Homo sapiens: one gene and its partners. The protein of the gene in region 1 purifies or fractionates together with the protein of each later gene. This does not show direct contact. Each region holds a gene or a part of one and is shown on either strand. Other genes may lie near its edges.

Region 1 (7,100 bases):
TTGTGACCATGTGTGATCATGACATCCAGGCAGAGGGCTGGCATTTTTCCGAAAAAGGGTAGAAAATGTCAGAGTATGGTGTGTGTGTAGGCAGGGTCAGTATTGGTCACTGACCCTTACACTGCAGTGGCATTTGTGAAATAGGTCAGGGTCACTGGTCACGTTGTCTAAGGTGTTATCCGAGCTCGTTTCACAACCAAGAGAATTAAAGAGCATAGACCACCCAAAAGGTGAGGTTGGAGCGAAAGTTTAATAAGCAAAAGAAGAAAGCTCTCCACAGAGGAGAGGGAAGCCCAAGCGGGTTGCCATTTTTACAGTTGATTCCAAAAGCTTTTTTTTTAAAAAATTATTTATTTATTTATTTTTTATTATTATACTTTAAGTTTTAGGATACATGTGCACAACGTACAGGTTTGTTACATGTGTTTATATGTGCCATGTTGGTGTGCTGCACCCAGTAACTCGTCCTTTAGCATTAGGTATATCTCCTAATGCTATCCCTCCCCCCTCCCCCCACCCCACGACAGTCCCCGGTGTGTGATGTTCCCCTTCCTGTGTCCATGTGTTCTCATTGTTCAATTCCCACCTATGAGTGAGAACATGCGTTGTTTGGTTTTCTGTCCTTGCGATAGTTTGCTGAGAATGATGGTTTCCAGCTTCATCCATGTCCCTACAAAGGACATGAACTCATCATTGTTTATGGCTGCATAGTATTCCATGGTGTATATGTGCCACATTTTCTTAATCCAGTCTATCATTGTTGGACATTTGGGTTGGTTCCAAGTCTTTACTATTGTGAATAGTGCCGCAATAAACATATGTGTGCATGTGTCTTTATAGCAGCATGATTTATAATCCTTTGGGTATATACCCAGTAATAGGATGGCTGGGTCAAATGGTATTTCTAGTTCTAGATCCCTGAGGAATCACCACACCGACTTCCACAATGGTTGAACTAGTTTACAGTCCCACCAACAGTGTAAAAGTGTTCCTTTTTCTCCACATCCTCTCCAGCACCTGTTCTTTCCTGACTTTTTAATGATCGCCGTTCTAACTGGTGTGAGACGGTATCTCATTGTGATTTTGATTTGCATTTCTCTGATGGCCAGTGATGATGAGCATTTTTCATGTGTTTTTTGGCTGCATAAATGTCTTCTTTTGAGAAGTGTCTATTCATATCCTTCGCCCACTTTTTGATGGGGTTGTTTGTTTTTTTCTTGTACATTTGTTTGAGTTCATTGTAGATTCTGGATATTAGCCATTTGTCAGATGAGTAGGCTGCAAAAATTTTCTCCCATTCTGTAGGTTGCCTGTTCACTCTGATGGTTAAACTAAAGAGCTTCTGCACAGCAAAAGACACCAAAAGCTTTTATAAGAAACTCCTTTCATCTCTGTAGCTGTTTGAGTATCTTATCTGTAAAGCTATCTGCATAACTCTCCGTTATCTATGTAGTTGTGGGTACGTCTTTAGGCAAGCACAAAGCTCCGCTTCTCTTGTTTCTGTAACCGTGGGTTTGTTTTAGGTAAGCTCCGCCCCTCCCCGTGCAAGTTCCCACAGAGACCACCATGTACGTGCCTGAAAAGGGGAGGGAACTTTTCCTGGGAGCCTGTCAGTCACGCAAAGAACAAAAGGCTTCTGTGCTGGGCAGCTTGAGTTTTCCCCAGGCTGCTCTATTGTTGCCTGTAGCTGTGATTTTTCAGGCAGGCTGCTCCTCTGAGGACCACCCTTAACTGTCTACCTAACTGGTTTTTCCTTTTCTTCTCCTCATTTGTATTTATGTATCAGTGTATTATGTATTTATATACACTTGGAGATACAGTAAAATGTACCTCTCACTGTGGGTTACCATAAATACTGTAAATTTGAGAAACACTCTTTCAGGCCTGAGAGGAGCAGTGACAACAGTAGGGATGATCAAGTCAGATGTCCCTGGTACCCAGGAATGGCTGGATGAGAGAAGGAGACAGGGTGACCTGCCCCTGCCTACAAACTCTAACCCAGTTCTGTCCCTGGAGCTGTGTGACCCCGGACAAGGCCCTGCCCCTTTCCAGGCTGTCGTTGTCCTCATCCAGCCTGGGAGAGGGTTGGCGCTGAGGCCCCCACCTTCTTGCCTGTTTCCTCCTGACCCCACCCCTTCCCCTCCTGCTGGGCAGATCCGAGTGAAGCCTGACAGGACCGGTGTGGTCACGGATGGTGTGAAGCACTCCATGAACCCCTTCTGTGAGATCGCGGTGGAGGAGGCTGTGCGGCTCAAGGAGAAGAAGCTGGTGAAGGAGGTCATCGCCGTCAGCTGTGGGCCTGCACAGTGCCAGGTGATGAAGGTCTTGGGGAGGGGGCTGGACTCCTGGGTCTGACGGAGGAGGGGCTGGGACCTGGACTCCTGGGTCTGAGGGAGGAGGAGGCTGGAAGTCTGGACCCCTGGGTCTGAGGGAGGATGGGCTGATAGCCTGGATTCCTGGGTCTGAGGAAGAAGGGGATGGGGGCCTGGACTCCTGGGTCTGAGGAAGGAGGGGCTGGGGGCCTGGACTCTTGGGTCTGAGGAAGGAGGGGATGGGGCCCTGGACTCCTGGGTCTGAGGAAGAAGGGGATGGGGGCCTGGATTCCTGGGTCTGAGGAAGGAGGGGATGGGGCCCTGGACTCCTGGGTCTGAGGAAGGAGGGGCTGGGACCTGGACTCCTGGGTCTGAGGGAGGAGGAGGCTGGAAGTCTGGACCCCTGGGTCTGAGGGAGGATGGGCTGATAGCCTGGATTCCTGGGTCTGAGGAAGGAGGGGATGGGGGCCTGGACTCCTGGGTCTGAAGAAGGAGGGGATGGGGGCCCGGACTCCTGGGTCTGAGGAAGGAGGGGATGGGGGCCCGGACTCCTGGGTCTGAGGAAGGAGGGGATGGGGGCCCGGACTCCTGGGTCTGAGGAAGGAGGGGATGGGGGCCCGGACTCCTGGGTCTGAGGAAGGAGGGGATGGGGGCCCGGACTCCTGGGTCTGAGGAAGGAGGGGATGGGGGCCCGGACTCCTGGGTCTGAGGAAGGAGGGGATGGGGGCCTGGACTCCTGGGTCTGAGGAAGGAGGGGATGGGGCCCTGGACTCCTGGGTCTGAGGAAGGAGGGGCTGCGAGCCAGACTCCTAGGTCCCCCTGAGGATAGCAGCCAAGTCAAGCCCCTCTGTCCTTGGCAGGAGACGATTCGTACCGCCCTGGCCATGGGTGCAGACCGAGGTATCCACGTGGAGGTGCCCCCAGCAGAAGCAGAACGCTTGGGTCCCCTGCAGGTGGCTCGGGTCCTGGCCAAGCTGGCAGAGAAGGAGAAGGTGGACCTGGTGCTGCTGGGCAAACAGGTAGCTGTGGTCAGCCCTCCCTGTGCCCCCTTGCTCATCCCTGCTCGGGAGGAGGGTGGTGGAGATACGGGGTGAGACAGCAGCTGGCCAGGCCCAGGGCATTCACCACTCCAGGCTGAGCAGCTTGGGACTTTGCTGACCCTTCTGACAGAGAGTTTGAGCAGGGAGGACAGAGTCCCTCTGGGTGTTAGAAAGATCCTCTTGGGCCAGGCACGGTGGTTTACGCCTGTAATCTCAGCACTTTGGGAGGCCGAGGCCAGTGGATCACTTGAGGTCGAGAGTTTGAGATTAGCGTGGCCAACATGGTGAAACCCCATCTCTTCTAAAAATATAAAAATTAGCCGGGTGTGGTATCACCTGCCTGTAATCCCAGCTACTTGGGAGGCTGAGGCATGAGAATCACTGGAACCTGGGAGGCGGAGGTTGCAGTGATACAAGATCGCACCACTGCACTCCAGGCACCACTGCACTCCTGCCTGGGAGCAGAGCGAGACTCTGTCTCAAAAAGAAAAAAAGAAGAAAGATCCTTTTGGGTGAGTTTAGAGGCTGGGAGGCCGAGGTGATGGTCACATGGGGGAGAATGAGGCCTCAGCCAAAGGTGACAGGACAGAGCAGAGACATGATGTGGCAGGAGAGACTGGGCTTAGCATGGGGAGGGAGGGCAGGGAGGAGGCAAGGACAGTGCCTGGGTCTGCCTTGGTAACACAGGTAGGAAACCCAGGAAGAACAGGAGGTTAGAGGAGGATCCTACAAGGGGAGTGTGAAGAGCCCAGGAGACATCGATGCAGGTTCAGGAGACAGGCCTGGGCTTGAAACAAAGACTTGAGAATTTTGGAGGGCACTGGGGAGCTATGGGAGTTCTATGAGCAGAAGAGGGGTGGGATCAGCACTAGGTGCAGAAAGAGCCCCCCTGGGCTTTGAGAATGGACTGGAATGGGAAATTGGAGGCCAGGAGTTAGGGAAGGAGGTTAGGGCTGGGTGAGGACCCGACCAGAACCTTCCCTGCCACACTGGTGCTCCCCACTGAGATAGGGGTACATGGAGCTCATCTGTTCCCCCAGGAGACCCTCGGGCACCACCTCTGCTCAGGGGTAGCTCATCTCATTTGAGGGCAAACCTCATGGCCTCAACCAGGGAAGGGGCAGAAGAGGGACGTCAGAAGAGCCACAGGCAGATGGGAGTGAGAAGAGGCAGGGAATTAGGGATGAGGCTGAGAAGGAAGGCCAAAGACTGCAAGGTATGTCAAGCAGAGCACGGAGACAGCAGAGCACAGCAGGCTCAGGTAGAGCTGGGGCCCCCGGAGAGAGATGGGGATCCCAGGGCCAGGTCAGTTCTGGGACAAAGAGGAGGCTGATGGGTCCAGGTAGGTCACTGGGTGTCCTGCCCAGCCCTGAGAAAGTCAGAAGAAAACAGAGAGAGATTATCAACAGCAGGGGCATCAGAGTACAGATCAGTCAACTGTGGCCGAAGGGCCTACCCGGAGAACAGGCCAAAAAGGCAGGGCCTGGGTGGGGCTGCAGAGGCCGAGGTGCTGGAAGCATGGCCTTTGCAGCCCCCTGCATTTGCTGGTCGTTCTCAGACTCCGATGTCCTACCTGTCCTGGGCCAGGGACAGTTCCTGGGGCCAGGGCCTCCAGCTGGGGAAATGCCGGATGAACTGGTCAGGATGCTGTTTGTTCTAGGAAGCAGATTCACAACTCAAACTGGCTTAAGCCAGAAAGCGAATTTATTATCTCACGTAAATCAGGGGCTTCAGGCACAGCTTGATCCAGGGTCACATATGAGCTGTAGGCTCCCCTCTACCTTGTCTTCACTGTCTGCATCTCCAGGCTCAGATCCCACCAGCCCAGTGACCCCAGCAGAAAGAAAGGAGCATCTTTCCCAAGGGCCCCAGCAAACTCCCAGGGCTGACTCTTCTTTGGTGCAGCTTGAGTCATGTGCCCCTCCCTGAACCAATCACTGGGCTGGGGCTAGAATGTCCTTGCTGGCCCAGACCCTGTTCATGCAGCTGCCCAGGGGCCACATAGGGTGGGACTCCTGAGAGGCTTTATACAGAGGGCAGAGACTTGACGACAGGGATGCCAGGTGGCCCCACATGTCCCTGGACAAGTGGCTGCTTATCTCTGGGCCCAAGTGAGGGGATCGTTCTAGACCAAAAGTCAGTGAACTATGGCCCAGAGCGACCTCTGATTTGTAAATAAAGCTTTATTGGAACATCACCACATACATTCATTTACATATTATTTATGGCTGCCTGTGTGCTACAACAGCAGCGCTGAGTCACCGTGACAGAGACCGTATGACCTGCAGAGCCTGAGATATTTACTACATCTGTTCCACCATAGAAAAGGTTTGCCAACCCGACTGGCTGCGGTGACTCATGCCTGTAATCCCAGAGCTTTGGGGGATCATCTGAGGTCAGCAGTTCAAGACCAGCCTGGCCAACATGTTGAAACCCTGTCTCTACTGAAAATACAAAAATTAGCTGGGCGTGGTGTTGGGTGCCTGTAATCCCAGCTACTCAGGAGGCTGAGGCAGGAGAATTGCTTGAACCCAAGAGGCGGAGGTTGCAGTGAGCCAAGATTGTACCATTGCACTCCAGCCTGGGTGACAGAGCAAGACTCCGTCTCAAAAAGAAAAAAAAGAAAGAAAAAGTTTGCCAACCCCTGTTCTAGACAGAGGCCTGAATGGTCCATGAGCTCCACTGATTGTCATACAGTCTTCTGTCTCTCCCCATTCAGGCCATCGATGATGACTGTAACCAGACAGGGCAGATGACAGCTGGATTTCTTGACTGGCCACAGGTGAGACTGGAGTGGGGAGCACCTGCTGAGGGCCAGGCCCTCATCCCTCAAACTTCATTTCTGCCTCAAGGCCTTTGCATTTGCTGTTCTCTCCTCCTGGAACACTGTTCCCTCGGATTGCCTCATGGCTTTCTTGTTCCCCTCCTTGAGGTCTCTGCTGAGGTATCACCTCTTCAAAGGGGCCTTCCTTGCCATCCTACGTGAAATACTCATGCCCACCCGCTCAACTCTAGGTTCCCCAGTCCCCATCTCTGCCAGTCCAATAGAAATGCAGGCTGGGGCCAGGCATGGTGAGTCATGCCTGTAATCCCAGCACTTTGGGAGGCCGAGGCAGGTGGATTACTTGAGGTCAGGAGGAGTTTGAGACCAGCCTGGTCAACATGTTGAAACCTCGTCTCCACTAAAAATTTAAAAATTAGCTGGGTGTGGTGGCGTGCGCCTGTAGTCTCAGCTACTCAGGGGGCTGAGGGAGAATTGCTTGAACTTGGGAGGCGGAGGTTACAGTGAGGCAAGATCGCACGCCACTGCACTCCAGCCTGGCAACAGAGGGAGGCTCCGTCTCAAAAAAAGAAAAAAGAAATGCAGGCTTGGCACAGTGGCTCACACCTGTAGTCCTAGCACTTTGGGAGGCCACGGTGGGAGGATTACTTGAGCCCAGGAGTTCGAGACCAGCCTTGGCAACATAGTTAGACCCCATCTCTACCAAAAAAGAAAAGTTAGCTGGGTGTGATGGCACATGCCTGTAGTACCAGCCTCAGGAGGCTGAGGTGGGAGGATCCCTTGAGTTCAGGAGGTCAAGACTGCAGTGAGCTGTGATCATACCACTGTACTCCAGCCTAGGTGAAAGAGGGAAACCCTGTCTCAAAAGAAAAAAAAAAAAAGAAGCAAGGCACATAGACAAATTTAAAATTTTTCACAGCTACATAAAAAAGTAAAAAGAAACAGACAAAATTATATTTTATTTCA
Region 2 (7,970 bases), on another chromosome or scaffold:
AGTAGCAGAGACATAAGACCATGTGCTTCCAGAGAAAAACTGGAAGAGTAACTGCCTGAAGACTTTCTGGTTCCCAAAACGCTGAATTGGAATCATGCAATGGACTTCAGCAGCACTGTATGACAAATGCTTTTTTTTTAAGTAGGCTAATTAAATTGGCTTTTTCTTCCTTGCAATCAAAGAATCCTCAAACCATTACGGGAGGTAAAAATAAAAACACTGAGTAAGCAGCTACTATGTGCTTCGCACTAACTTTTTGAGGTGGGTATGAAGAAAATGAGGCTCATTTAATTAATAGACCTGACTCCCAAACCGAAACTCTTTACAATATACCTCATTTTCAGTCAAGTAACATCCTCTCTGTTCCAGGCCTCTACCCCATTTATTTCCCAAGAAACATTCTCAGATTATTCTAAAAATGATAACTTTTCTCCTTTTACCATGTCCAGTCTCTAATCTACAAATTTCAAATGCCTTTACTCCAGAAGTTTTTTGTTGTTGTTTTTTGAGGCAGAGTCTCACTCAGTCGCCCAGGGTGGAGTGCAGTGGCACGATCTCGGCTCACTGCAATCTCCCATCTCTCAGGCTCAAGCGATTCTTGTGCCTCAGCCTCTCGACTAGATGGGATTACAGGCATGTGCCATAACACGTGGCTAATTTTTTATTTTTTAGTAAAGACAGGGTTTTTCCATGTTGGCCAGGCTGGTCTTGAACTCCTGGTCTCAAGTGATCCACCCGCCTCAGCCTCCTAAAGTCCTGGGATTACAAGTGTAAGGCACCAAGCCTGGCCCAGAAGTATTTTTTTAATAAACTTTTATATGTAAGGATGACTGGGAGAATCGAGACACTTGGATCTTTCCAGGCTGTTTTTAAACTGATAAAGCATTTTTCTTTCTCTTCCCCATATTACCAGCTCATTGACCCTTAACTCATGCCCAGGCTTAACTTAAAGCTTTTCTCGACCTGTCCTCACCCTTCAATCCTTCCAGGTAGTTGATTAATAAAATGCAGACCACAAGACAGGAAAAAAAACAAAATCAGTTACCCTATCCAAAGTTACTTCAATTACTTTTGAAAAACCAAACACCACACGCCCTACAAGTTTGAAACCCTTGCCAAAAGGTTATGAAGACCAGCCAAAAAATTTATTTTTCTACTTCTGAAAATTAGTTTGCTAAGATGGAGTAAGAAGGAATTTTTTCTAATCAACACTGGTCTCCTCTGCCCATTCACAAAGAGATATTTTCTAAGTCTTTCACATTTTTGTCACGTATAGACAGAATTCCTCTACCTATTTACAACTGGCATTTTCTCTTAAAACGGCCTTTAATATATTGTCCAAATTGGTTTGAGTTCCTTTTCCAGACAGTAAGTTCCTAAAATTAAAAAATAAAAAAATTAAAAGTACCGTATTTTTTCCAGCCTCTAAAGGCAAAAGAGGACTTCTTCAGCTTCTAGACTTATCCCTGGAGTTCAGGGGGCTAGAGAAGGCTAGAGAATTTCTCACTATGGTTCCATGTCTTAGGCAACTTCCCATATCCTCAACAACTGCAAAATATCACTGGCCTAGGAGTCCACTGCTAGGCCCTTATCAATATTGTCGATACTGCAGTTATGTGGGTACATACATTAGTCTCTAGCTCAGCTTGGGAACCCACTTCTTCCCTGATTTCCTTACATTCTTTGACCTTTCATAAATTACTGTTACAGCTACAATAGTGACATTCACTGTCCACCCCTGGGTCAGTTTTGTCAGGAGGAACAACGACAAGAAAAAATGAATAATCAGGGTACCGTTTGAAAAAGTAAATGTGTTTTTCAAAAAAAAAAAAAATCATTCAATTGCACTATTTTAACTGACACCAATCATGCCAGGCACTGGGCTGCCATCCTAAAATGATGACATTAAAAAAAATATATCTGTGCATTACTGATACCCCATTTTTTCTTAGTACTCCATATTTTGAGTATTTTCAGACATAACAAAATAACAATCGACATGACATTTCTAAAACAGTGGGAAGCAGCTAAGCAAAACGAGCATTTTGCAAGCGATTGAAAAGCTGAAAAGAGAACAGGAATTAACTCCAGTTTGTACTAAAGCTATTAGGTATGTATCTCAGCAGTCTTTCTCACCATGAAACTCCTTAACATCTAAAGCTAAACCACATCCAACTTTATATGGTTTTAGAAGACAGACAAAGCAGAGAAAAAAAATGAAAGCTGGTAATATGGGGAAGAGAAAAAATGTTAGCTTTTACTGTCATTGTCACTTTTTAATACTTCGGTTACATCTACATATTTTTTATAAAGCAGCTTAGATGCCTGGATTAACAGCAGTATACTCAATCCATTCGGGGTACTTTATGGCCAGCCTTAAGCCATTAACAGCCTAGGAGAGTATTTGACAGCAAATCCAAATATCAATACTCTGAGGAGCCCCTTGACGCCTTCCGTTTACAAGATCTGAGCAGCGCCTGCTTCCAAGGCTCCGGGGGTCTGACAGTGAAGGATGCTGTTCGGGAACAAAGTGCAACGTCCTCCCAACCGCTGCAAATGTTCCTGTGCGCACACCACGAACACACACTAAGCACGCGCACCACGCACCCGGGGGGCCGTCTCTGAAGACCACCCCGGGGATGGAAACAGCCTGTCATTAAAAGGGGCGGCAGCTCCACCGCCACACTTGGGACCCCAGGAAGACGCGTCTCGAGACCCAGCACCTCCCTCTACTCTGGGCCCGGTGCGGTGAGTTTCCTCCTTCGGCCGCGCTCCTCCCGCCCTCCTCCCTCCGCCATGCGAAGGCGCAGCTCTCGGGCGGCCCCGAAGCCAGAAGGGGGACCAGCGGCAGGCGGAGGGGCTGGAGCGCCGGAGCCGGGCCGCTCCATCCATGCCGGCCGCACACCCGCCGCCACCCCATCTAAACGCAGCCTCCGCGGCGAGCACGTCGGCGCCCGGCTCACCTGGGGGCCGCAGCCTCCGCAGCTCACAGACATGTCACCGGCCTCAACGACCCGTGAGCGAGCCGGGCAAGCAAGCTGGCCCCCTCCCGCGCTGACCCCCAGCCCTCCCCCTCCCAGCCCCGCGGCCCGCCCCCGCCCTGCCCACCCCTCGGCTTCCGCCGCCGCCGCCGCCGCCGCAGCTCCGGCCCGCAACACCGCCTACTCTCCACGCCTCCCACTCTCTCTCGCGAGAGGGCAGCGCGCCTCTCGCGAGAAAAATTCCGCGGCCGAGCCCGCGCAAAAGTGGGTGGGCGTTTAAAAAGGGAAAGAAGGAACAGGAAAAAAAGCCTTCCCACGTGCTCCAGTGCAGCCCGCGGAGCAGCCCGCGGGGCAGCCCCGCTGGTCACATGACTTAAAGGGGGCCTCTCCATTGGCCGGGACCCACTCAGCCTTGGGAGCTTTAAATTCGAGGGCGACCTACGAACCTGCGGCGGACGTCTTGCGCGCTTCCTGGTCCGTTGCCTTGGAAACGGCTTAACCCTTCCCTCTGGCAAGTCCCCAGGCCTTGGCTTGCTCCGCAGATTTGGTTTCAGGCTCTGCCTCTTTTCCCTCGACCCCTTAGTCTTAACAGCCTGGGGCCAGCTGGGCTCCTTCTTCGCCACAAGGCTAGTTTTGCTTTCTTCCGAAGCCCGGGGCCCTTCCCAAAGTGGCAGCCCCACCAGATCCGAAGGCCCAAGGAAGGCTCATCCTTTCTGATGGCTCCGCCCCTTCTCCCAGCATCTCCGGGGAGGACCACTCACAGCGCACCGGGCAACCAGCCCTATCCCAGCCAAGAAGTAGCTTCCAGGGTTCTCAGGGCCCTAGTGCTCACCCTGATGTCTTTACGTGGTATGGAAATCGGAAAGTAAAGCTTTGGTCACTGGGAAGCCTAGCCAGAGATGAAAAGCTGTTATGGTGATTATTTTCACCTAAAATCGGAAGGGCCAGTCCAGTCAAATTGCCCTGTCTCCTAAAGGGCATCTGTTCCTCAAGAGTGGAAACACCTGGCAATAAGAAAGACATTTTTGAGTGTATCCTCGTTATGAGTTAAGTTTTGCCCTGTTCAGAGGAGAGGGTCACGGAAGAAAGGGTGCATTCGTTTGTTCATTTCTTCATTCAACAAACACTACTCTAGGCTGTTGATTGAACAATGATGAAGACAAGTAGTGTAGATTCTAGGGAACTTATCTGAGGGTGAAAAGAAAAAAAATCTGTTGGTTTTAAGCTGTATGCAAAGAAGTTACAATAAGTGACGTGATGGTGATGGTGACTGAGTGGCTAGTAAAGGGGATGCCCTTTTAAGGAGGAGATATTTTAGCAGCGATTTGAATAACAGACGCAAAAATCAGAGCATAGAGCATTCCAGGAAAAGGATAACACTAATTCAAAGGCCCTAAGTAAGGATCTATTCTAGTGCATTTGAGGGAAGAAGAAATGAGAAAGTAAACTTTCTTGAGCCTGGAGATGGAAACTGTAAGAGTTAAAGAAAGAAACACAAAAAGCAGCTTAACAGAGACAGGTTTATTTTGGAGAATAAACCTGAGAGGGGCTTCTGGCCGATTTCGGTCAGGAGTGTTCTCTCTTACAGACTAAAGGTATTTAGTGGTTTAGGGAGGGAGAGCATATTGTAGACTTGGAATGTTTCTGGGTGGAGGAGAGTTTTATTGTCAGGGGTGTAATGTCTCTGGTTGGAGGGGAGGCATATTTCTGATCAGAGTGGGGTTTATCTCAGGGTTGGAAAGTTTCTGGTCAGAAGTGTTATTTGTGGTTTATGGTCATGCTGACATTAGCCATTAGGCTGATGTTTCTGGGGCTGGATTTAGGCGGTTTTTAATCAAGGGGAACTTAAAATGGCGGTGCTTGTCCAAGATGGTGATGCTCTTGCTCTGTCAGAAACTAGCATGGGCCAGATCCTGTAAGGCTTTGTTAGCCAAGAAAGGAATTGAAAGTTTATTCTAAACGCAATATAAGGTATTACAGAGTTTTTAATAGGGGAGAGACACCCAGAGTTTACTTTTTTTTAAAAAAAAAAAGTCTCGTCTTTGAAAAGAATGGGTCTTAAAGAGGCCAAAGCAGAAGTAAGGGAGATTAGGAGATTTATAGGCCAGGTGAGAGACAGTCATGAAATTTAATTTAATTTCCTATGATCTCAACATTTCTAAAATCCATTAGGTCAGAGTCCTCATGCTGTTTCTGCCTTTGTTGAAACATGTGGATTTCTCCTAATTACTAGGAAAAATAAAATGGAGGATTTTCTTTTGTTACCTGGGGGAAAACAAATGGCTGAAAAGGAAGGGCCCATCTTTAATTTTTTTCCCTCCATTATGCTACACTGACAACCACCTCTTCTGTCTATTCTTAAAGTCAATTCTGGGAACAGAAAATGAAATTCTACGCAGATACTTATTCTTTAGTGTAAGATTTGAAAAGATAGAGGTTGAAAGCTCAGAAATCAAGAGGATGTTTCACCAAAAGAAACGAATCAGGAGATGAGTTCCAACTCGAAGCTCTGTCATTAGTGATACAACCAAATCAAGGTTCCTTATCACCACTGAGTCTCAGCTTCCTCATACATAAAACAAAGCAATGTAACTAGCCTACACCTAAAGTAGTTAAGCCTGAATTACACTTTAACATGCACATACCAGTAGGACGGAAGCTGGAAAGGGAAATGAAATGATTTTTTATGAAAACCTAACAGAGTCAGCGGCTCAACCCAAATGAAATTAGACACACACACACCAGCTGAATAACTCTGAAAACGGTTGATACAGATACCAGGAATGCTTCCCTAAGAAACCTTGGCCTTCTCAGAGTGTGAAAACGGAAACACCGCCACCTGCTCAACCTCGAATTCCATCTCTCTTAAGCTATTTTGAACCTGTGTAGTATTAAATAATGATTCATGTGTTCCTAATCAGAGTTTAAGAACTAGATAGCAAATACATTTTTTAAAAGGTCTGAGGCAATATCCTAAAGTTAAGCTAACACCTTAATTTTAACGAAAGCAAGATTTCAAGATACATAGGGCTACTTTTTAAAAGGAAAAACGCCAAAAAGAGAAAAAGTACTATTTTAACAAAGTAGGACCATTCTTTTAAAATGTTAATTGAGTATTTTTTGAGTGTTTACAGCCCTCATAATGATTAACTGAAACAGCTGCTTGGTACTACTAATTTAGATGAACTCTGGGCCCAACTCTCCCAATCGAACATGTATTAACAGAGCCCGAAATAAATCCTCCCAACTCACCTTAGCAAGACAGTCATTGTGCTCTCTTGTGCTAGCTACAATTATTTGCAGTACATTAATACAAAGTGAGAAAAAATTAGGATTGAGATCCAGTTCTGCTGTGTCCCCAGTTCCTGGATTCTTTTTAAAACTGTGTTTTTTAACAGTTTTACTGAGATGTAATCCATTTACCATACAATTCAGTGCTTCTGGTAGATTTACAGTTGTGCAACTGTCATCAAAATCTAATTTTAGAAGTTTTGTTCCTCCCTAAAAGAAACTCACATACTCAGTAGCAGCCAATCAACTTTATGTCTATAAAGACTTGCCTATTCTGAAGGTGGAAACCATCATTCTAAGCAAACTATCACAAGGACAGAAAACCAAACACCGCATGTTCTCACTCATAGATGGGAGTTGAACAATGAGAACACATGGACACAGGACACAAGGCGGGGAACATCGCACACCGGGGCCTGTAGGGGGTTGGGGGGCTGGGGGAGGGATAGCATTAGGAGAAATACCTAATGTAAATGACAAGTTGATGGGTGCAGCAAACCAACATGGCACATGTATACCTCTGTAACATGTTGTGCACATGTACCTTAGAACTTAAAGTATAATAAAAATAAAATAAAAAATAAAAAAGACTTGCCTATTCTGGACAGTTCATATAAATGGAGTCATACAATACATGGTCTCTTGGGTCTCACTTCGTTCATTTAGCATGTGTTAAAGGATCATCCATGTTGAAGCGTGTATCAGTACTTCATTTATTTTTTATTGCCGAATAACAGTTCCATTCTATGTATATAGCACAGTTTTATTGGCCAACTTATCAGTTGACAGACAATTCAGTTGTTTCTACTTTTTGGCTATTATGAATAATACTGCTTTGAATATTCCTATACAAATTTTGTGTGGATGTTGCTGATTCTTTTTAATACTCTAAAAAATAGAAGACGTTCTATTTATCCCATTTACAGAGTTCATATTTCTCCTCCTAGCACCGTTCCTTTGCTTCCAGGATTTGTCTTTTTTGCCTGCTGGTTGAAGTATGTGCACTCTATCTCCAGAGGGCTGCCATTTCTACTGCATCTGACCATGCCATTCCCCTGCTTACAATCCTTCAGTGGCTTCTCATGGTTTTCCTCATAATCTGCTTTTCTCCTTTGCTTTCATATCATTCTCCCTTTCAGACTGTCCCCTTTTCAGTTCCTCAAAATAGGACCAGACCCTGCCTGCCTCATCACCTTCCACAGGCTGTTTCTTCAGGATCCAATATTCTTTCTCTGTCCATCCCTGTTAACAGCTGAATGCCCAAGAATCCTTCACCTTTCAACTCTACTGTCACTTCCTCAGGAACTTTCGTCCTAACTCCCCAGACTAAGTAAATCCCCTTTACTTAGGACTCCCTACTTTTTCTTCAACGCATTTATCAACTTATAACAATTTTTATTTGTGTGGTTACCTAGTTAATGTCTGTCTCCCTCCTCCACTGAACTGTGAGATCCATGAGCAAGGGCTGTTTCTGTTTTTGCTTAGGAGTTCCTAAGGCACATAGTAGGTACTCAATAACTATTCAAAAAAAGAGAAGCGGGGAAGGAGGGTGTCTTACCAGACTATTCTTTATTCTCTTTAATTTGTATTGTCAGGAGTCCTCAGTAAAGTCCTGATAAATGCTATAAGCCAAATCTGTGCTATGTTAAGGGAAATGAATGTCAAGGCATGTCCCATGCTTGGGATGTTGCAGCAGGG
Region 3 (8,041 bases), on another chromosome or scaffold:
TTGGCCATTACTACTCCTCTCTCCTCAGTCTCCCATGATGGATTTAGGAAATTCCTCTTCTGATCTACTTTGTAGATTAAGTCATATACATATGAATCAGTATAAAGGTGTTTCTTTCTTTGGCAGCAGATTTAAGAGAGGGCAGCCTAGGGAACATCTATTCTTTTTTTTTTTTTTGAGACGGAGTCTCGCTCTGTCACCCAGGCTGGAGTGCAGTGGCGCGATCTTGGCTCACTGCAACCTCTGCCTCCCGGGTTCAAGCAATTCTCTGCCACAGCCTCCCGAGTAGCTGGGATTACAGGTGCCTGCCACCATGCTTGGCTAATTTTTGTATTTTTAGTAGAGACGGGGTTTTACCATATTAGCCAGGCTGGTCTCGAACTCCTGACCTCATGATCCACCCGCCTCAGCCTCCCAGAGTGCTGGTATTACAGGTGTGAGCCACCGTGCCCAGCCCATATCTATTCTTTTTATTTGCCAGAATCTCTTCCTGCCTTCACTTGGTAGGACCAGCCCCTTTCATCTTGGGAACAAATCCTCCCTGGTTCCAAGCAGTTCTGATGGGCTGCTACTTATAATACCCCGCCTTCCTGGCCATAAGGGTGTGTGTATAATCAGGATCTGGCCACACATATACTCTACTTATTGTTGTCCACAGTAATTGACCTATGGATGGACACATGACCTAAGTCAGGTCAGTTCGAATCCTTTCCTACCATCTTATTTACAGATGGTAAAAGCAAAAAGGCCTCTCTAGCTGAGACGATTGAAACCTGGAGCTGTCTCTAGTCATGCTCTCCCCACCCCCAGCTTGTACAGAAAGCTCATATGGAATAGGAGAGAATAGGATCAAAACACTGAGAAAAGCAGAGACAGGGAAATAGTAGGAGCAAAGGTGAAAGTGTGAGAGTGACAAAAATTCCTTGCTTGGCCAAACAAACATTAGTCATGCTTCTGAGCCTTCTCCTGGGCCCATATGTGCGTTTTCTTGTAAAACTCAGTTTTAGAAAAGAGTTCTGCCAAGTCAGTTTAGCAAGAACCCCCACTCTCCATATCTGATCATTCTCAATATCTGATCAGATCCCTCATCCTCCACTATTGCCCAGGTCATGTCTGATCTCCCTGGCCTGTGTTCAGCAAGAATCCAGTTATGTCGGGTTAGCTAGAGTTCCTCATATTCCTGATGTTTCCTCTTAGTGATTTTTCATCCAGCAACCCCATCTGTTCTTTGTCTATAAATTCCAAGCTGCCTATGCTGTATTCTGCATGAGCTCCTTGCAGTAGTCCCTGTGCCGATTTCGATCGTGCTGGATAAAGCCTTCCTTACCATGCTTTAACACTGACTAATTTTTTCTTTAACAAGAGAAATGCTGATTCTGAATTGCTAGACTCCCACCGTTTCTGAAGTCCTTATCCTTCCCCCTATCTTAAAGTGGGAGTCAATACATCAGCTTTTTTTACTCAAGCTGGTTTGATAAGGGGTTTTGTTATTTGTACCTAAAAGCCGTGACCAATTTGTAGAGTAGGGCCATAAAGACAGGTACTACGCTCTACTTCAGGAGTGCTATCTATATTCCAGCTAAGGCTTACCACCTAGAGCAGTGCCTGGTACATGGCAAGTACTAAAGAAATATGTGTTGAAAGAGGAGTGCCTCTTCCTTGATACGCTTTTTTGGTCAATGGTTTTCTTAACTTGGTGCATTGATTAAAATAGGGAACATTTATCTCCTTTCCTCTCTTGCTCGTGGATATAACTCAAGATGGTTGCTGTTTAAATTTGAACACCTTAAATAAATGGCTCTTTTTGCAACTGGAAGCACAATTTTTGCACAGCTAGAAAAATCTTTTTCCAACACAGAAATTCCCAGTGCAGTTTTCTAAGAAACCCCCTACGATACGCAGCACAGCAGGCTCACCACAAGGCACATCAATCATTTTACTGTGTATCAGGCACCTCTTACAGGATTTTCTGTGATCCTGGTGTCAGTGCACATTCTGTATCAAGGCAGAGATGATATGTAGAAATCTGGCAGCTATTTAGAAGGGAGGCTGGGCAGTGGTGTGCCAGTATAATTAATGAGAGTCATCGCTTAGGAAATGAAGAGGGTGGGGGTTGGGAAGGATGCCTTTCACCATTCAATGGCATTTAAGAAAAATTGATGCTTTCTTAGCACTTTTAATGCTGGGAGGACATTAAGTCAAAGAATCACAGCAAAAGATTTTTGTAACTACTGTACAGATGGATGTCCCTGTGCTTGAAGAGGCAGGGCTAATTCAACCCCAGACTTTTCAGCCAGGCGGATTTCAACCTTGTATTGAGCTACCAGCAGGAGTTCTTTATACTTGGAAAAGTGGTAAATCCTTACTAAAAGATCATAGCTTGCATGACCAAGAGATCCTCTAGAAAAGGTACTTTACTACCATGTAGGATGTTTGTCTTACCTGCCCAAAGAAGTTTTAATGAAGATCTCATTTTCTCCAGTTCCCCTTTAACCAGTGAAAGAGGAGGGTATTATTTGTTTTGTTTTTCTATTTATTCTTTGGTAACCATGGAAGAGTTTGTGTAACCTAGAGAGGCTGCTTATTACCCACTGTCTAATCCCTTTGTTATTATTCCATACTCTGATTGTCACAAGCAGGAAAAATAGTTCTGTCCTGCTTCTAAAAACTTAGCAATGTAACACATTTTCTTGTTTTTAGTGATTTTCTCCAATTAATTAATTAATTGTTTTAGTGATTTTTCTCAGATAAATAATGTTAAAACGACTTGGAGAGAAAAGCTACATTAAAAGATTATGGATGTATAAATGTCCTAAACATTTAAGAACATGCATAATTATGATTCATACCAACTTCAGAATTATTACCTTTGGGAAGGGGTGGGGGTAACGAGTCAGGAGTTGGGGTTTAGCTATATCTGTAATGCTTTATTTAAAAAAGAAGGGCTGGGGGGAGCAGGAGTATTACATGGTATATATCCTGTTTTTGGTAGGTTTGAAATATCACACAATTTAAAAATTTAAAAGTTTACAAAATTATGGGAGTTGATTAAAACTATCAAAATAAAGAATGCATAGCAAACAAGTGCTCTTATTATGAACTTTGTGTCTGAGTTTATTTCAACATGTGCATCTGCATTTTTTCAGACTCAAGAAAGACAAACACCGGAGGTTAGGGGGTGAACTGCTGCTGTTGAGGGATTATCTTGGTGGTTTTTTTTTTTTTTTTTTTTTTTTTGGCTTTTCTATTCACCATGGAGGTTACCAGCAAAACAAATCTCCAACAAGCTTGTTTACAAAATATAAAGCAGTTTGGAGGCAGAGGGTTAATGACTTAATTTCTTATAAATTGAGGCTTGTGTATGGGCATGCAAAAAAACAAAAACAAAAACAAGTAAATTTGGGGAGGTTTCTTTCTATAGAGGCAAAGGACCTTACCTACATTTTTTCCAAATTGATTTCTTCCTGGTACTATTGGCAGGAAGAAATTCAAGTGGGTATTCTGGTGGCTTTTTTCTTTTTTCTGAGAGTCTAGGATTGTTTTCAGGACAAAGTTTCTTCTTGCCCATGGTGCTTTGCTGTGACATTGTAATTGCCTCTGTTGAATTGAATAATACAAATGGGTTGTTTCTATGGTATCGGCTAAGTGGGATGAAAAGGTGAAACCCTAGATCTTGCGCTGAGAGGTCACAGTGCTACCACCCTCCACACTGTCTGTCAAAGAGAACAGGCAGCCAAGGCCCTGAGCTCCAATCTCAGGCACTCATTTGTAACTTACTCGTTTGTAACTTCCTGGGCAAATTCACGCATGAAAAAAGAAAATGACTTTAGTTTATGTTGTCACTAAGCCCAGAAAATCCCTGCCAACCCCATGCTGCCAGCTTTCCTAGGACATTCTTATTGGAGGATTATTTTAAACTGAAAGGTGAGTGAAGAGCTGCGTCCCCACTCCTTCCCAGCCAGGCTTTGAACTAACAATAGGGCAGGTTGAATGAAGGCTGATAAATGTAAATCCTGGAATCCAGAAGCCGGATCACACCGCGGCCGTCTAGGCCAGCGGCGGTTCCAGCATCCGCCCCAAGCTGGTCACTCATCCTTTCAGTGCATTCAGTAGATTTCATCGTTTCATCAACACTTGAGTGCCTGCTTCGTGCAAGCTTTCCTCTGCCACCGCCGCCTTCTTACTCCCGGCAGGTTGCCCGCTTGAGTCAACCAGCCACTAAACGGATCTAAGTGAATAAGTGGCCTGTTAATGCCAAGGAGTAGCATTTCCAAATGAAGAGACTGGGGGTAAATAAAAGCAAAGTGTTACCATTTACACGCTCTCAATTTTAGTTGCACTTCACTCAGAGTAGATCTCTTTAATTTGCGGCATCGACAGATGCTATATTCTTAGAAATTTTTTTTTTTTAAAGGAGGTAAGACGGGCGTTTGAGAACACTTTTTACTTTGGTGCAAGTTGCACGCAGTTCCCATTCACTCAGAGTAGATCTCTTTAATTTGCGGCATCGACAGATGCTATATTCTTAGAAATTTTTTTTTTTTAAAGGAGGTAAGACGGACGTTTGAGAACACTTTTCACTTTGGTGCAAGTTGCACGCAGTTCCCATTCCCTGCGCCCTTCACTTCCAACTTTGTTTCTCCAACTCCTTTACCCCCCACCACCGAGGCCCTCTGGCTACAGCCCCGAGGGGTTACCCTGGGTTTCGAAACTTTTGAAACTTGCGGGGGAGTAAAAGTACTTCATTCCCAGTGCTTCTGGCCCTTGCCAAGCGGGGAGCCCCGCAGGAGAGTGTAAGCCAAGGGTTCCAGGTGCAGCCTTGGGGTTCCACGTGCAGCCCTAGGGTTCCGTACACCCATCCCGCCCGGGCCAGAGGAGGCAGCAGGCGCTCCAGTCCGCTCTCCGCAACTCCAGTTCCTGATTTCCTCGGAAGCTGCGGGGCCGAGAGGGAGGGGGGCTCCTGTGTGAGCGTGAGGATTTGAATGAGAAAGCAGGTTGTGGCGGCGGCGCCCTGCTCTTCCCCGCTCGTCTGGGGCTTCTGCTGGCTAGTGGGGAGAAGTGCTCTTCTAGGGGGGCTTTTCTGGCCCTTGGCAGGGGTTTGGAGTTGGAGTCACAGGGGCCAATAACTCATCACCCCAGCACTTCGGAGGTGGCTCCTTGTGCCACGGACTCCGAGGAGTCCTTCAGCTACTGAACACTCAAAGCTGAGGAGGTCAGTGCTTTCGGGGGAAGAAGGGGCCCAGGAGAGAAGGGGGTGTGCAGGAAAAAGAGAACTGGTACGCCAGTCCGATGAGCGAGTGAGCAGGTGGCCCAAGTTCCTTTCTCGGCAGCCACAGCCGGCACACGCCTGTTTAGGACTGTGAGTGCTGTGCGTGGGGATCCCCTAAGGCCCCGTGCGGGGAACTGGCCACGGCCGCTCTTCAGGGTCCCATAATTCAGAAGGATGAGGGTGGGTGTGTGTGTCCGCGAAATAATGTAACTCTCGGGTCCCTTGCGGTGGTGGTGGGTGGCGTTTCGCCCGGTGGAAGGTCCAGCCTCGCTGCAGGATGCTTCACCCTCACGCGGGGTCCCGGGACCCTCTCTCTGACCGCCAGACGCCGCCAGGAGAGCAGGTCCGCGTTTCCCAGCAAGGGGAGTGCAGCGTCCGTTACACTTGGGGAGTCTCACAGCTTTTCCTGCGCCCGGTGACCCTGCTCAGGACCTCTTAGAGACTAGGTGTGCTCAGCGCGAGGAGGATATACTCCATTGCCCTTTCCTGGGAAGAACCAAGAGCGCCCGAGCGGCGCGGGGTGGTGGAGGCAAACCCCGGCCCCGCGGCGGCACGCTCTGCGCCTGCGCGGCGTTTCCTTGGCGACTGAGCTGCGGGTCCGAGACGCCACCCCGCGAGCCCCTAAACCCAGTTCCCTGTTGAGCGTCTGCGACGCCCTCTCCCCTCCTTCCCGAGGCTTTTTCTATTTGTTTCCTTCTGCGAATCAATTTGTGATCACATTTTGACGTTGAGAGTTCAGCATTAAAGCAATAACCAACTAAATTAAAAAAAAAAACCCAACTTTTCCCTTCCCTTGTTACCGTTTTGATCACGGACAGAAGAAAATGGTGAGAGATTAGTTATTAGGGCAGCAATTGAAATCCCCCTCTGTCCCGAAAAGGGGAGACGAATAAAACATTTACTTCCTGGTAAGGAGTTAGAAAATTCAGTGAAGTGATTGTTCTCGAGCGTTACAAGAACAAATCTGTGCCTCCTAACCCAGGTGAAGAGCAGAGCTTGTACAACCCAGCAGCACCCATGTCCTGTTTATTGGCATGTTTATGACAAGGAGATGCTCTGCAAAAGGGACCAGAGTATAATGCCAATGAAAAGAAACAAAGGATTTCCCAGAAGAGGCGGTAGTTTTTTTCAGTTGCCTCAGCGTTTTGGTCACCTTTGGGGTTAAAGTCTTCTGCAGAGAATGCTTCAAGAAGCCTTAACAGAAGCCAGTTTTCTCAAGCTGGTCATTTTCTTTTTCTTTTTTTCTTTTTTGAGACGGAGTCTGGCTCTGTCGCCCAGGCTGGAGTGCAGTGGTGCGATCTCGGCTCACTGCAACCTCCGCCTCCTGGGTTCAAGCTATTCTCTTGCCTCAGCCTCCCGAGTATCTGGGATTACAGGCTCCCGCCACCACGCCCAGCTATTTTTTGTATTTTTAGTAGAGACGGGGTTTCACCATATTGGCCAGGCTGGTCTGGAACTCCTGACCTCAGGTGATCCACCCACCTCTGCCTCCCAAAGTGTGGGGATCACAGGCGTGAGCCACCGCGCCCAGCAGATGAGAATCATTTTCATTTTCATAAAATTGTGAATCTTGACAGCCCTATCCCCTCTTTTAAAATCCGTTTGTTTACATACAGCCTAGCATTTGGCAAAAGTACACATCTTAAGGGGTATGTAGAAGGAGCGGTAGCTTCTTGCTTATTTTTCTTAAACTGCATCAATATTTGGCAGCATGATTGGTACCTAGTTGCTATTTAACATTGGTTAGAATTAACATAAATGCTAATACAAATTTAAAATGGAGTTATTCTTCTTGGGATAAAGTGTGGCATAAAATACCTTGGATGAAGTAATACGTGAGTACTGTCTCGCTACATACCAGTTTCAAGCAATTTGTTTTCAAGAATAGCAAGTGTTTATTTGTGGTAGATGTTTTAAGATAATATCCTCCCACCATCAGCAAATGAAATCAAACATACCACTTTTCAAATGATTAGCGAGTAACATGCTGTTAAAGTTGTCTCCCATCTCATTTGTCATAAATTCTTAACATTGTGCAATCCATCTAGCTCAAATGTTTAAAAATAAGTCCAACTGAGTTTTTCCCCTTTTCTCATGTTTAGCAAAATAGAAAAACTCTTAATTTTCAGGTTCAGATACTTTGTGACCCTATTTGGTGGCTTGTAACTGGCTCCAATTCCCTAATTCTCAGTGACATGTGTTTCTGCTGGTTCCAGGAGGTAAACTGCAGTTTTAACAGATCATGGGATAATGAGACTGGGAGTACCTGGGGGAGGCTGGGGAGAGGCAATGGGAAGGAGACAAAGAGAGGGAAGGTTGATGGGCAGAGCGAGGATTTATAGTGGCACCAGATTTGCAATAAAATCTGTTTAAAGTTATTGCTTCCGTTTGATATATTTTCCCACATCATCAACTTCAATTAAATTTATTTTAAAAATCAGTCTTTCAGATATAGGGCTAGTATTATAAACATAGAATATGATAAAAGTGCTCCTTGTTAGGGTGCCATAATGTAAAATACTGTGAAAATTCTTAACGAAATGTTTTTTACTTAATTTATTCACTTAGTCAACAAATGTTTATTGAGAACGTATTATATATAAGGCAAGATGAATAAATCCAGATTTCTGTTCTGAATGAACTAAGAGCTGTGAGTCCTGAAATAATTCTAATACCACTTCAGACGTTCAGAGTGAAGATACTACCTTTGGTACTCTTAAGGAGAACGATTGATTTGGTGCTAATCACTCAGACTTGCAGATTCAGAAACAA

What was found.
Region 2: the proteins of ETFB (region 1) and AKAP11 purify together in Homo sapiens (affinity purification with mass spectrometry; 2 studies listed by BioGRID and IntAct, with this or other methods). This does not show direct contact.
Region 3: the proteins of ETFB (region 1) and PLCH1 purify together in Homo sapiens (affinity purification with mass spectrometry; 2 studies listed by BioGRID and IntAct, with this or other methods). This does not show direct contact.

What each region holds. Positions count from the first base shown.
Region 1 is NC_000019.10:51,349,363-51,356,462, reverse strand, and holds part of ETFB (electron transfer flavoprotein subunit beta), read left to right. Parts: intron 1-1,620; exon of another isoform or gene 1,621-1,824; coding exon of another isoform or gene 1,825-2,154; coding exon 2,155-2,313; intron 2,314-3,172; coding exon 3,173-3,331; intron 3,332-6,071; coding exon 6,072-6,134; intron 6,135-7,100. UniProt on the Homo sapiens protein: Heterodimeric electron transfer flavoprotein that accepts electrons from several mitochondrial dehydrogenases, including acyl-CoA dehydrogenases, glutaryl-CoA and sarcosine dehydrogenase.
Region 2 is NC_000013.11:42,267,222-42,275,191, reverse strand, and holds the start of AKAP11 (A-kinase anchor protein 11), read right to left. Parts: upstream 3,041-7,970; 5' UTR 2,964-3,040; exon of another isoform or gene 2,431-2,963; intron 1-2,430. UniProt on the Homo sapiens protein: Binds to type II regulatory subunits of protein kinase A and anchors/targets them.
Region 3 is NC_000003.12:155,742,011-155,750,051, reverse strand, and holds the start of PLCH1 (1-phosphatidylinositol 4,5-bisphosphate phosphodiesterase eta-1), read left to right. Parts: upstream 1-4,980; 5' UTR 4,981-5,212; intron 5,213-8,041. UniProt on the Homo sapiens protein: The production of the second messenger molecules diacylglycerol (DAG) and inositol 1,4,5-trisphosphate (IP3) is mediated by calcium-activated phosphatidylinositol-specific phospholipase C enzymes.